Linked DNA regions of Homo sapiens: region 1 is linked to region 2. Evidence: fine-mapped expression QTL. A gene starts in region 2. The other region holds a variant in brackets. All regions are shown on one strand. Distances are between the middles of the regions. Region 1 overlaps ZNF213 (zinc finger protein 213). Region 2 holds the start of ZNF205 (zinc finger protein 205).

Region 1 (5,362 bases), 31 kb before region 2:
GCACTTCCTGCCAGTGATGGAGAGAGGCCCCAGGTTTCTAGGGAGGGGTGGTCTTCCTTCAGAGCACCAGTGGAAGTTCTCGGCTTCCCCTCACCTGGGCTGTAGGGTCCGTTCTCACGGTGGTCTCAAAGCCCAGGGCCCAGCACAGGCCCCCCAGCGCCTCCACGTCATGCTGGGCCCCAGGCCGGCCTTGGATCACAGCCAGGAGGAGGGCAGCCCTGGCCTTGGACAGGTCATACTGTGTGCTGGGACCGGGGGCCGGCTGCAGAGAGGGTTAAGACACATCTAAAGTGGCCTGAGAGGACTCCAGCTCCTGGCCTCCCCGGCCGGGGCCCCCCCTAAGCTTCTGTCCCACTGGAAACTGTGGCCATGTGATTGGATCCCTGCCCTGCCCCCCTCACCTCAGGCCTCCAGGGCTCCACGCCTCCCAGGCACAGTGCCCCCCTCAAGGAGCTCCGAAGGACGGGGCAGCAGGTGCCCCCTGCGGACTCTTCAGCCACCCTGCGGAAGAGCTGGGGATGGGGCCGAGAAAAGACTCAGCCAGGCTTGTGGCTTCTATAGTCTCTTCAGGGTCACCTGCCAGAATGCAGACAGGAGGAGGCCAGCAAAGGACAGACAGGCAGGATGGCCTCAAGCAGGGCCCAGGCTCCAGTTCAGGCTCAAGGTTATGGACTTCCCTGGGCATGGATGGCCTCGAGTGGACAGTGGCCACACCATTAACCCCTGCCCCGGGATCAGTGCGCAGAGAGGTGGGGATGTTCCCTAGAGCGGGGCTGGGCCTGTCGGGAAGACTCACGGGGTGGGCACTACCCTGCTGGGCGATCTGTGGAGGAGAGCTGGGGCCCCCTCATCCCCAGGGCTGCCCAGGGGCCACCCAACTACACAGTGAGACCTTCAGCCTTGGAGACCAGACTTGAAGCATTCCCAGTCCCAGCCTCCAGGGTCCTGCGATCTAACAGGGCGGACAGCCACTGCTTGGTGTAGAAAGGGGCAGCCTGAAGTGCAAGCGTGGATGCAAGGAAGGGCATCGCTGGCAGCCTGCAGAGGACTGTGCAGGGCTCCCGGGACAACAGGAAGGCATAGCAGGCAGAGGGAACTGCTTGGGCCAAGGCATGGAGCTGGGAGGAGTCGAGTGTCGGGGATCCTGAGTGGGTTGTCAGGGGTCCCGAGTTGAGGGTGAGGGGCTGAGACCACTTCTGTAGAAAATAAAGGAGGTTTGTAGAATGAATCGGAGGGAGGATACAAGTGAATGAATCTAACTGTAACTGGCTTAGGGGGGCACAGCAGAACCAGCGGAGACAGCAGGACCAGCCCCGCTTCCCTGGGCCTCCCCCTCCAGCGTCCCCACCTTCGTCAGCAGCTGCACCAGGGACCAGTGAGGAGAGCGGCCACACAGCTCTCTCAGGCCAGCAAGGAAGGCTCCGGGCTCCAGGGAGGCTGGGTAGAGAAGCAGCATGTTGGCCTGCAGTGAGGCCCGAGGCTCTGCCCCTGGGTCCCTGCCCAGCTCCTGGATCCTGACCCAGCTCACTCACACCCAGGACCACTTGAGAGCAGCAGGAAGACTTTGGGGCAGCCCCGCAGGGCCCGGCAGCCGCTCAGCTCCCGGACCAGCTGCTGTGGCTGCCTCAGCTGCCCTCTGGGGGCATCAAGGCCACTAAGGCACACCCCACAGGGCGCCCGTGGGCATCCAGCTGCTCCTGGAACCAAGCCAGTTCCTCGAGGAAGCCCTAGGGGCAAGAGTGAGACCGACCTGAGTCCGGGGAGGTTTTGGGTGGGGAGGAGATTCTGGGTCAGGGGAGAGTGGGGAAGGGGTCGGTGCTGGGCCTGAGGGTGGATGTAAGAGGCAGAGGCTCACCTGGACCGGGACCTCCCTCCTCTCGCAGCTCTCAAAGCCCAGGGCCTGGAACACGTCCTCCAGGGCAGTGACTACAGCGGCCGCCACCCCAGGGCTGCTGAGCATCAGGGCTGCCCTTGGACCCTGGACGTCATACTTCCCCTGGGGAGGCAAGGCCAGAGCTGGGCTGGGCTGGGCTGGGCTGGGGCTCAGCAGGGAGGCAGGAGCAGCTGGGCTAGGCGGTGCCTCCTGCTACCTTTCTCCCCAGGCTGTCTCGAGTGTCTGCCATCTGCGTGGCCAGCCGCAGGGTCCCAGCCACCAGGAAGGCCATAGGGCGAGACGGGGCTTCCTCCAAGCACCAAGCTCGGAGCTCACCTCCTGGCCCTGGGCTCTCAGTGCCCTGGGTCCTAACCCTTGCCCTCTACCCTAACGAGTACTATCAGCTCTGCTTATGAGCTGAGCTGGACTCTGCCCCATCCCTGGAACCCTGGGTCCTGGCCCCGCTCTCCCAGCCTGGGCTTCATTCTCTGGCTCCTGCTGGTGACTTCTTTGCTGGCACTGACATGCCCCTACCCGAGCCAGGAACCTGTGCTCAATCCTATTCTTAGCTCCTGGCCTACGTGCTTATCTGATCTCGTTACACCCGAGTGTCTCCATTTGGAGCCAGCCACCGCCACCAAGAAGTCCTTGTACCATCCCGGCCACCCGCCACACGCATGCACACAGCACCAGGCCCCCAGAGGTAAAAATCACCAACTGGAATCAGCCTTGTCCACAGCGAGACCTTGCTTGCTTCTTACGGGAAACGGAGACCATGACAGTGACCGCAGGATGATGTGTGCATGGAAGGTTGGCTAAGAAAGGCCTAGGGGCAGAGAGGGCTGGCACATGCACACCTGTTACCAAGGGACCAGAGC[G/A]TCTTGTCCACCGGCCCCCGCCTCCCCTCAGCCAGGGGCCCTGAGGCCACTAGCAGGTGAAAGAGAAGGAACCAGCATGGGTGGAAGGAGGGGTCGTGCCTGGATGATCACTAGTTTTGACCACGCACCCACCAGCCCTTGGTGGGTCCCGGCCTGGGGCTCCTGGTAGGGAGAAGTTGGATGTCAGGGGCTGGTGGGAAGGGCAAGCCCGCTGTCAGCCCCTCCTCCAAGGGACTCAGCCTGGGGCAGCCTTGAGTTCCAGATCCCCAACACGCAGCAAGAGGGTCCCACCACTGACCAAGCAGCGTCTATGGGCCCTTCTTCCTTTCACAGTTGTGGGAGAGGAGTGGCCTGGTGAAGACCCTGAGTCCTGCTCAGCTCCCCGTTCTGCTGGAGCACCGACGGTGCTCCCAGAGCAGGGCAGGCACTAGCTGACACAGGGGGACAAGAGTCCCAGGGGACACGGCTGCCCATTGGGGCCCAGCCGACCTGGACGCCAAGGACGCAGCTCCGCCTGGTCACGGTGCAGCAGCATGTGCCACCAGGACACAAGGCCAGGGCAAGGGGCATATATTCCAGGTATCCCCACCCTCCAGCTACCGAAAGAACAGAACAGCCTGGAGGTAAGTTTTCACGTTTATTAATACTCTTCTGTTGCCCTTTGGAGGTCTGAGGGGGAGTCCTTGCAGGGCCTCTGGTCTGTCCCTGTTCATGGAAGGCAGTGCTCAGGAGGCAGCAGCAAAGTGCCAATGAAGCAGGGCGTTAGTGCCGATGGAGCAGGGAGCCAGTACCGGTGGAGCTGGGCGTTGGTGCCAATGGAGCGAGGCACTGGTGCCGGTGGAGCGGGGCGTTAGTGCCGATGGAATGGGGCACCAGTGCCGTTGGAGCTGGACGTAGTGATGATGGAGCAGGGTGGTAGTGCCGACGGAGCTGGACATAGTGATGATGGAGCGGGGTGGTAGTGCCGATGGAGCCGGACGTTAGTGACAATGGAGTGGGACACCAGTGCCGATGGAGCAGGGCGTTAGTGCTGATGGAGTGGGGCACCAATGTCAAAGGAGCGGGTCATTAGTGCCGCTGGAGTTGGGGCGTTAGTGCCAATGGAGTGGAGCATTAGTGCTGATGGAGTGGGGCGCCGAGTGGGGCATTAGTGCCGATGGAGCGGGGCCGATGGAGTGGGGCGCCGAGTGGAGCATTAGTGCCGATGGAGCAGGGCGCCAGTGCCGATGGAGCAGGGTGCCGGGGCCGATGGAGTGAGGTGCTAGTGCTGATGGAGTGAGGTGCTAGTGCTGATGGAGTGCTAGTGCTGAGTCTGGTGCAGCCCCACCTCTGGAGGAAAAGATGGCAGCCAGGCGCCCTGTTCTTGGTCTCCAGGGTTGGCCTCCTGTCGCTGGAGCCACCATTATCCTCACCAGATTGGTGGGCAGGTGGCTCTCAGAGCCTCATGCTAGGGCAAGTAGGCCGAGGGCAAAGGCAGGCCGAGTCCGTATGGCCAGGACAGGGCAGAGTGGTCATGGCCTGGAAACGGGAGTGGGAGGGGGCCAGAAAGCCCCTGCCGCCGTGACTAAGACCCGCGGTCCCACAGGTGTGGGCTGTCTCTCCCAAAGTCCAGCAGCCCCCTGGGGGGCCAAGGCCAGTCCTCCACGCCCACTGAAAGGCACAGGTTGGTAGGGCAGAGGCCTGACCCATGGACCCACCCCACAGGGTGGGGGCCAAAGAGCCACACAGTCAAATGAGGCTCGGGGGCTTCTGGGAAGGGACCTAGACCTGAGTCCTTGCCACCCTGCTGTCCCTGCCAGGAATGTGTTGGGGCTCCAGGAAACTAGAGGGGAAGAGGAACGCTAGGCGCAGAAGGGGGAAAGAGGACAAGATCGGGGGCGGGAGGGGAAGGCTTCCGTTCCCTTTGAGCGCTGGGCAGGTCCTCAGAGCCAAGCAGGGCAGGCGAGCTCCGAGTGTGAGGTACCCTGGGGTCCCTCGGACAGCCCGGGAGGTGGCCACAGATGGAAGGAGAGTCCCAGTGGTGAACAAAGCAGGATGTGCCGTGGCTGGGCCTCCCCCGGGTTTCCGGCCAAGCCAGCTGCTCACCCCACGGGCTGGGCCATCTTGGCGTGCAGGCTCTGATGCGCGATGAGGTGCGCGCGCTGCTTGAAGCTCTTGTCGCACTCTCCGCAGCCGAAGGGCCGCTCACCGGTGTGCACACGCCGATGGTCCAGCAGGTAGGAGCGCAGCGAGAAGCTCTTGCCGCAGTCGCTGCAGCCGAAAGGCTTCTCGCCCGTGTGTATGCGCTGGTGGTCGGCCAGGTAGGCGCTGCGGCTGAAGCTCTTGCCGCACTCGGAACAGGAGAAGGGCTTCTCGCCCGTGTGCACGCCTTGGTGGCGCACCAGGTCCGAGGAGCTGCGGAAGCTCTTGTCGCACTCAGGGCACTTGTGTGGCTTCTCGCCCGTGTGCGTGCGCTGGTGCCGCGCCAGGTCCGAGCCCCAGCGGAAGCGCTTTCCACACTGCCCGCAGCTGTGCGGCTTCTCGGCTGCCAGGTCCCGGAACTGGCGCCGGCGAGTGGGTGGCCGCCCCCGTCGCGCGCCCACCACTGGGCCCAGGGCCGCCCTCGGCCGGT
Region 2 (5,362 bases):
AAGAGGAGGAATATTCACCAAGCCGCCTCCACAGTGCCGGTGGGCGTGGTGCCCAAGGGCAGCTACCCCTTCTCAGCTCCAGCCTCACACTGACCTCAGCAGTGTAGACTGCTGTCTATTAGTGTATGAAGAAACCAAGTGTAGTGGCTTGAATAGTGTCCTCTAAGAATCCGTGTCCTCCCTGGACCTCAGAATGGGACCTTATTGGGGAAAAGGGTCTTTATACAGGTAAGTTAAAGATCTTGAGATTAAATCATCGTGAATTTAGAGTGAGCCTAAAATCTAACAATGACTTATGTCCTTATAAGAATAGGAGAGGACACAGAGACACAGAGAAGGAAGCAGAGACTGGAGGGATGCCCACACCAAGGACACCAGGAGCCCCCAAGGAGTTGGAAGAGGTAAGGGAGGGTCCTCTTAGTCTAGAGCTTTCAAAAGGAGTGTGACCCTGCTGACACCTAGATTTTGGACTGCAGGCCTCCAGGACTGTGAGAGAGCCAATTCTGGTTGTTTTCAGCCCCCCAGAGAGTGGAAACTTGTTACAGCAGCCACGGGAGACTAACACACCATGGCTGGGGATGAGACAATGCCCCGTGACCACATAGCTCAAAAGCTTTGGGAAAGTCAGGGAGGGCCCTGGTGGGGCCTCATCCACAGCACAGGAACTGGCCGGACTTCTGCTGGGGTCTCACACTCCTTCCTCCACGCCCTGTCTGTGTTTGGGTCTTGAAGGGAAAGAACCTCAGGCCAGGAATCAGAGTGCCTGGGTGCCAGACCCAGCGACACCCCTCCCCAATCAGGCAGCCTTCAGGACGCAGCTGCTCTGCCCCTGCACAGAATGGTCATGAGGTTCACGCAGATAATGATGGAGAAGGAGCTGCCAGCTCAGGAAAGTCCTGGATAAACACAGGGTGGCGCTGGTCATTAATCCCCCCCGCCGTGCGCACCAGACAGAAGCCAGTGCCAGCAGAGAATGCCAACATGTGGGGCTCTACTGACATGCCCAAGGTGTTCAAGGCACACGGGAAGTGGATGGGAAACTGAACCATGCTAACAATTCTTTGTGCTTCTATGGCATGAAAACCATAGATGATGGCGTCTCATGCCTATTATCCTTAGAGCCTCCCAGTGACCCTGCGAGACAGGTGGAAATGGCAGGCATGTGGTCTGCATTTTACAGATGACACATCTGGTTCCCAGAGGCCAGGGACTGGCCCCTGGCCTGTCGCTGACTCATACTCCTCCAACTCCAAGCCCGGAGACCCAGGTCCCCCACAAATAGTAATTACACACACACACTCAACCACGCACGCACACACACACGGGTAGCAGGTACAGGAAGGAGAAAGGACCGGGAGCTCAGACCCACAGAGATGAGAAGCTGTGGTTCCAGGTGGAGAAGCACGGGGAAGGAGAACAGGTTTCCCTGTGTGCTCTGAGCGCTGCTCAGAAAGAAAACCTCACTGATAGGACCTCCACCCAGACCTCTTCCATCTCCTGTGGCCACTGGCTAGAGAATTCACCAGCAAAGCAAAACTGTTATGCTGTAAATTCCAGACAGAGGGTACTACCCAGCATGCCACCTTCTCTTTGATCTCCCCACCCCAGTGAGTCTAACTCTTCCAGGGGTCCAGACTCTGTGCCTTGAAAATCTCCTCCGCACCAGCCTCTTCTACCGCACACCTCCCTCAGCCAGCCCCATCTGTACCTCCGGGGGTGTCTCCTTGTCCTGGGTGTCCTGGATGCCTCCGCCGTCTGCAGACATTTTCTATTTCAGAGCTAGAAAGAACAGCTGAGTTGTTTCTCCCTCTTTTTGGCCAAGCCCCCTCCAGCTTCTGGCCAGGAGCCTAGAAGAGCAGACAGAAACCAGCCCTCGCTTCCTGGACACCCCCAAAGAGCCCTGAAAATCCCCACGAGTACCAGCGCTCCCTGGTCCCAATCGGAAAGAAAGTCTCCCAGATCCTATCCGATGGTCCCACTCTCTGTGATGTTTTCTGGGTCCTATTTTTGAAAGAATGCTATTTTGTATTGTCCCCTTTATTGCTGAAGCAAGAGCCTCGCATCTCAGTGTAACCGGCTCAGGGAAAGCCGAGGCTAAATTGGAATCGCTATTTCCTGTCATCAGGAGCAGAAAGTTCTGCAGAGATCCTGCAGAACAGGTGCTGGTGGGGCCCCGCCCGTCAAGGCCAGGGTAATCCAGGACCTGCTGTCCCCCGACCCCAGGACATACACCGTGTGTCCCTACCTGACTCCCATGCCCACCAGGAATTCAGAAATCAACCTGCCCGCTCTCAGCAGCCCCCCTGCAGCTGCAACCACCTGCCCCAGGCCTGGGATGCCCATCCTGCTCTCGGTCCTGGCAGACAATGTCCTTCTCCTTCCCAAACCCGGTCCTGGCCCCCTTCTCTCCTGCCAGCTTGAAGCCTTCCACCTTTGACCCCATCCCCTCCTGCAAGCTGATCATCTGCGCCGGTCTCGGGATCCAGATGCCCTCCCCAGCACCCCCTTCTCACCGGGGTGGAGGCAGAGGGGGCACCTGCGGCAGTGGGGGCCCCCTCCCCCGGGAAGGGAGTCTCCACAGCCTGCACGGGGCGGGCGGGGGAGTTGGGTGGAGACTGGGAGTAGGGAAGACAGGAAGTCCCTCCCAGATCCCATTCCCCATGCAGCCGCAGCCCTACAGCGTTCCCGGTTTTGAGGGTTCCGGGTGTGGAGTCTCGAGCCTGGGTTGCACCTGCTCTTGGCCGGGAGGTGACTCCCAGAGCCGCAATGCCAGCTCATGAGGATGGCTTTACCCAGGACGCGTTCATGATGCCAGCAAGGCAGAGCCACCAAAACAGAAAAATGGAAGATGCATTTTGTGGAAAGATTGTGTTATTTGAAATTTCAAAGCGAGCACTGCAGTTGTCCTCACAGGTAGAAAGAAGGGCATTTTGCAGGGTGGAGAGGGCAGGACCATTTATTTTAGCACTCGGGGTTTCTGAAGGTTATTGTCTCCTGAGGGACCCTGAATTCATTTAGGGACTCCTAGTCAAGGGCCCTCTGGGTCCCCCCAAGACTGGCACAGAACTCTCTCCCTAAGAGTGAACTTGGGAAACAGGCTGGGAACTCCCCCCAATCCGGATGCCCCACACCTTGGGAAGAAGTTGGTTAATCCGATTCTTCCAGGCCCATTTCAGCTTGGGGATAGAGGGTGTGATCCAGCTATAAATGGGGTTCTAAGTTCTCAAACACGCCTGGCAGCTGCAGATTCTGCCTCTCAGGCACCATTTCCCTTTAGACCCTGAGAAGTAAGGCCTCAAATAGAGAGGACAGAGACTGTGCTTTACTTTCTGGGGGAAGGAACCATTTCTCTTGGGCAGGCATGGGGGCTGGGTGTCAGGAAAAGGGCCAGGGGCCCAGTCCTGGAATCAGATTCCAGGAAGTTTCCCTAGGAAACGTCCCCATGCCACTGTCTTTGGCTCACCAGAATCCCCTGAGGTGCACAGCTTCACACAGTAAGATGGGCCCAGCTGCCTCTGTACCAGCTCGTGCTATGTTGTGTGGGCTTTTAAGGGTTTGTTTGTTTATTTATTTACTTATTTGAGACAGGGTCTTGCTCTGTTACCCAGGCTGAAGTGCAGTGGCACGATCATAGCTCACTGTACCCTCAACCTCCTGGACTCAAGCAATTCACCTCAACCTCCCAAGTAGCTGGGGCCACAGGCGCATGCCACCATGCCTGGCTAATTTTTTAAATTTTTTTGTAGAGATGGGGGTCTTGCTTTGTTACCCAGGATGGTCTTGAACTCCTGATCTCAAGCAATCCTCCCACCTCCCAAAGTGCTGGGATTACAGGTGTGAGCCATCATGCCCAGAGGGTTTAATTTTTTTTTTTTTTTTTTTGAAATGAAGTCTCACTCTGTGGCCCAGACTGGAGTGCAATGGCGTGGTCTTGGCTCACTGCAACCTCCACCTCCCTGGTTCAAGTGATTCTCCTGCCTCAGCTTCCCAAGTATTTGAGATTACAGGTGCCCATCACCATGCCGGGCTAATTTTTGTATTTTCAGTAGAGACGGGGTTTCACCGTGTTGGCTAGTCTGGTCTCGAACTCCTGACCTTGAGTGATCCACCTGCCTTGGCCTCCCAAAGTGCTGGGATTACAGGCGTGAGCCACCGCGCCCAGCTAATTTTGTTTTTTTTTTAACTTAGTTTCTAACATTAAAAAATTGACACTCATAAAACTGATTCTTTTATTTTTTTAGACGGAGTTTCGCTCTTCTTCCCATGCTGGAGTGCAATGGCGCAATCTCAGCTCACCCCAACCTCCGCCTCCTGGGTTCAAGCGATTCTCCTGCCTCAGCCTCCTGATTACCTGGGATTACAGGCATGTGCCACCACACCTGGCTAATTTTGTGTTTTTAGTAGAGATGGGGTTTCTCCATGTCGGTCAGGCTGGTCTGGAACTCCTGACCTCAGGTGATCCGCCCACCTCAGCCTCCTAAAATGCTGGGATTACAGGCGTGAGCCACCGCGCCCAGCCTATAAAATTGATTCTTTAAAAAAAATTAGAACATTTACCGATGCTGGACCCACCTTCCCCACCTTCAGGGTCCACTTTCTAGGTGGCCACAGTGCCTGCTTGGCCCCTGTAGCATTTGAGTTTGCAACTCTGCTTTTGGAGTTAAACATGTTTTAGGAGTCCTGGGATTCTGATTGATGCTATTGTCAATTTGATGAAAGAAAAATTACTCCTGGGATTTGTGTCTGGTGTTTTCCAGGTGTTCTGGTTTTGGGATTTTGTTGTTGTTTTGTTTTGTTTTTGTTTTTCTGAGACAGAGTCTCGCTCTGTCATCCAGGCTGAAGTGCAATGGCACCATTTCGGCTCATTCCAACCCCCACCTCCTGGGTTCAAACGATTCTTCTGTCTCAGCCTCCCAGGTAGCTGGGATTACAGGAGTGTGCCACCGCGGCCAGCTAATTTTTGTATGTTTAGTAGAGACAGGGTTTCATCATGTTGGCCAGGCTGGTCTCGAACTCCTGGGTTCAAGCAATCCACCCACCTCTGCCTCCCAAAGTGCTGGGATTATAGGCTGAGCCACTGTGCCTGGCCAGGTGTTCTGTTTTTGTTTTTGATTTTTTAGAGATGTGGTCTCGCTATATCACCCAGGCTGGTCTCGGACTCCTGGCTTCAAGCAAGTCTCCCGCCTCAGCCTGCTCAGTAGCTGGGACCACAGGTGCGAGCCACCACACCCGGCTTCTAGGTGTTTTAAGCCTCAAGGCGAAGAGAGACATGCAACTTAACAAGTCAGTACTGTTTTCAAGCCAGAGTGAGCGATGAACTGAAAGCTGAAGCGGGGAGGGGTCCTGGAAATCATGACACTCT

The links. PIP is the estimated chance that this variant, and not a neighbour inherited with it, causes the effect.
Region 1: its variant is the best candidate, but not a certain one, in a credible set for the expression of ZNF205 in skeletal muscle (GTEx, PIP 0.69).

The regions. Positions count from the first base shown.
Region 1 is chr16:3,140,818-3,146,179 of GRCh38, reverse strand. It overlaps ZNF213 (zinc finger protein 213), which reads right to left. Exons shown (of 6, transcript NM_004220.3): 6 at 3,376-5,362. The coding sequence ends at 4,833. It also overlaps the pseudogene CASP16P. Among named protein-coding and RNA genes, the nearest start is that of TRR-CCG1-3, 7.2 kb to the left of the region's middle. The variant G/A (reference allele first, on the strand shown) is at 2,752.
Region 2 is chr16:3,109,834-3,115,195 of GRCh38, reverse strand. ZNF205 (zinc finger protein 205) reads right to left here and starts at 2,610. Exons shown (of 7, transcript NM_001042428.2): 1 at 2,514-2,610; 2 at 1,709-1,779. The coding sequence starts at 1,765. ZNF205-AS1 (ZNF205 antisense RNA 1) reads left to right here. Exons shown (of 3, transcript NR_024167.1): 1 at 1-228; 2 at 314-401; 3 at 4,242-4,736. RefSeq lists an enhancer at 1,087-1,675.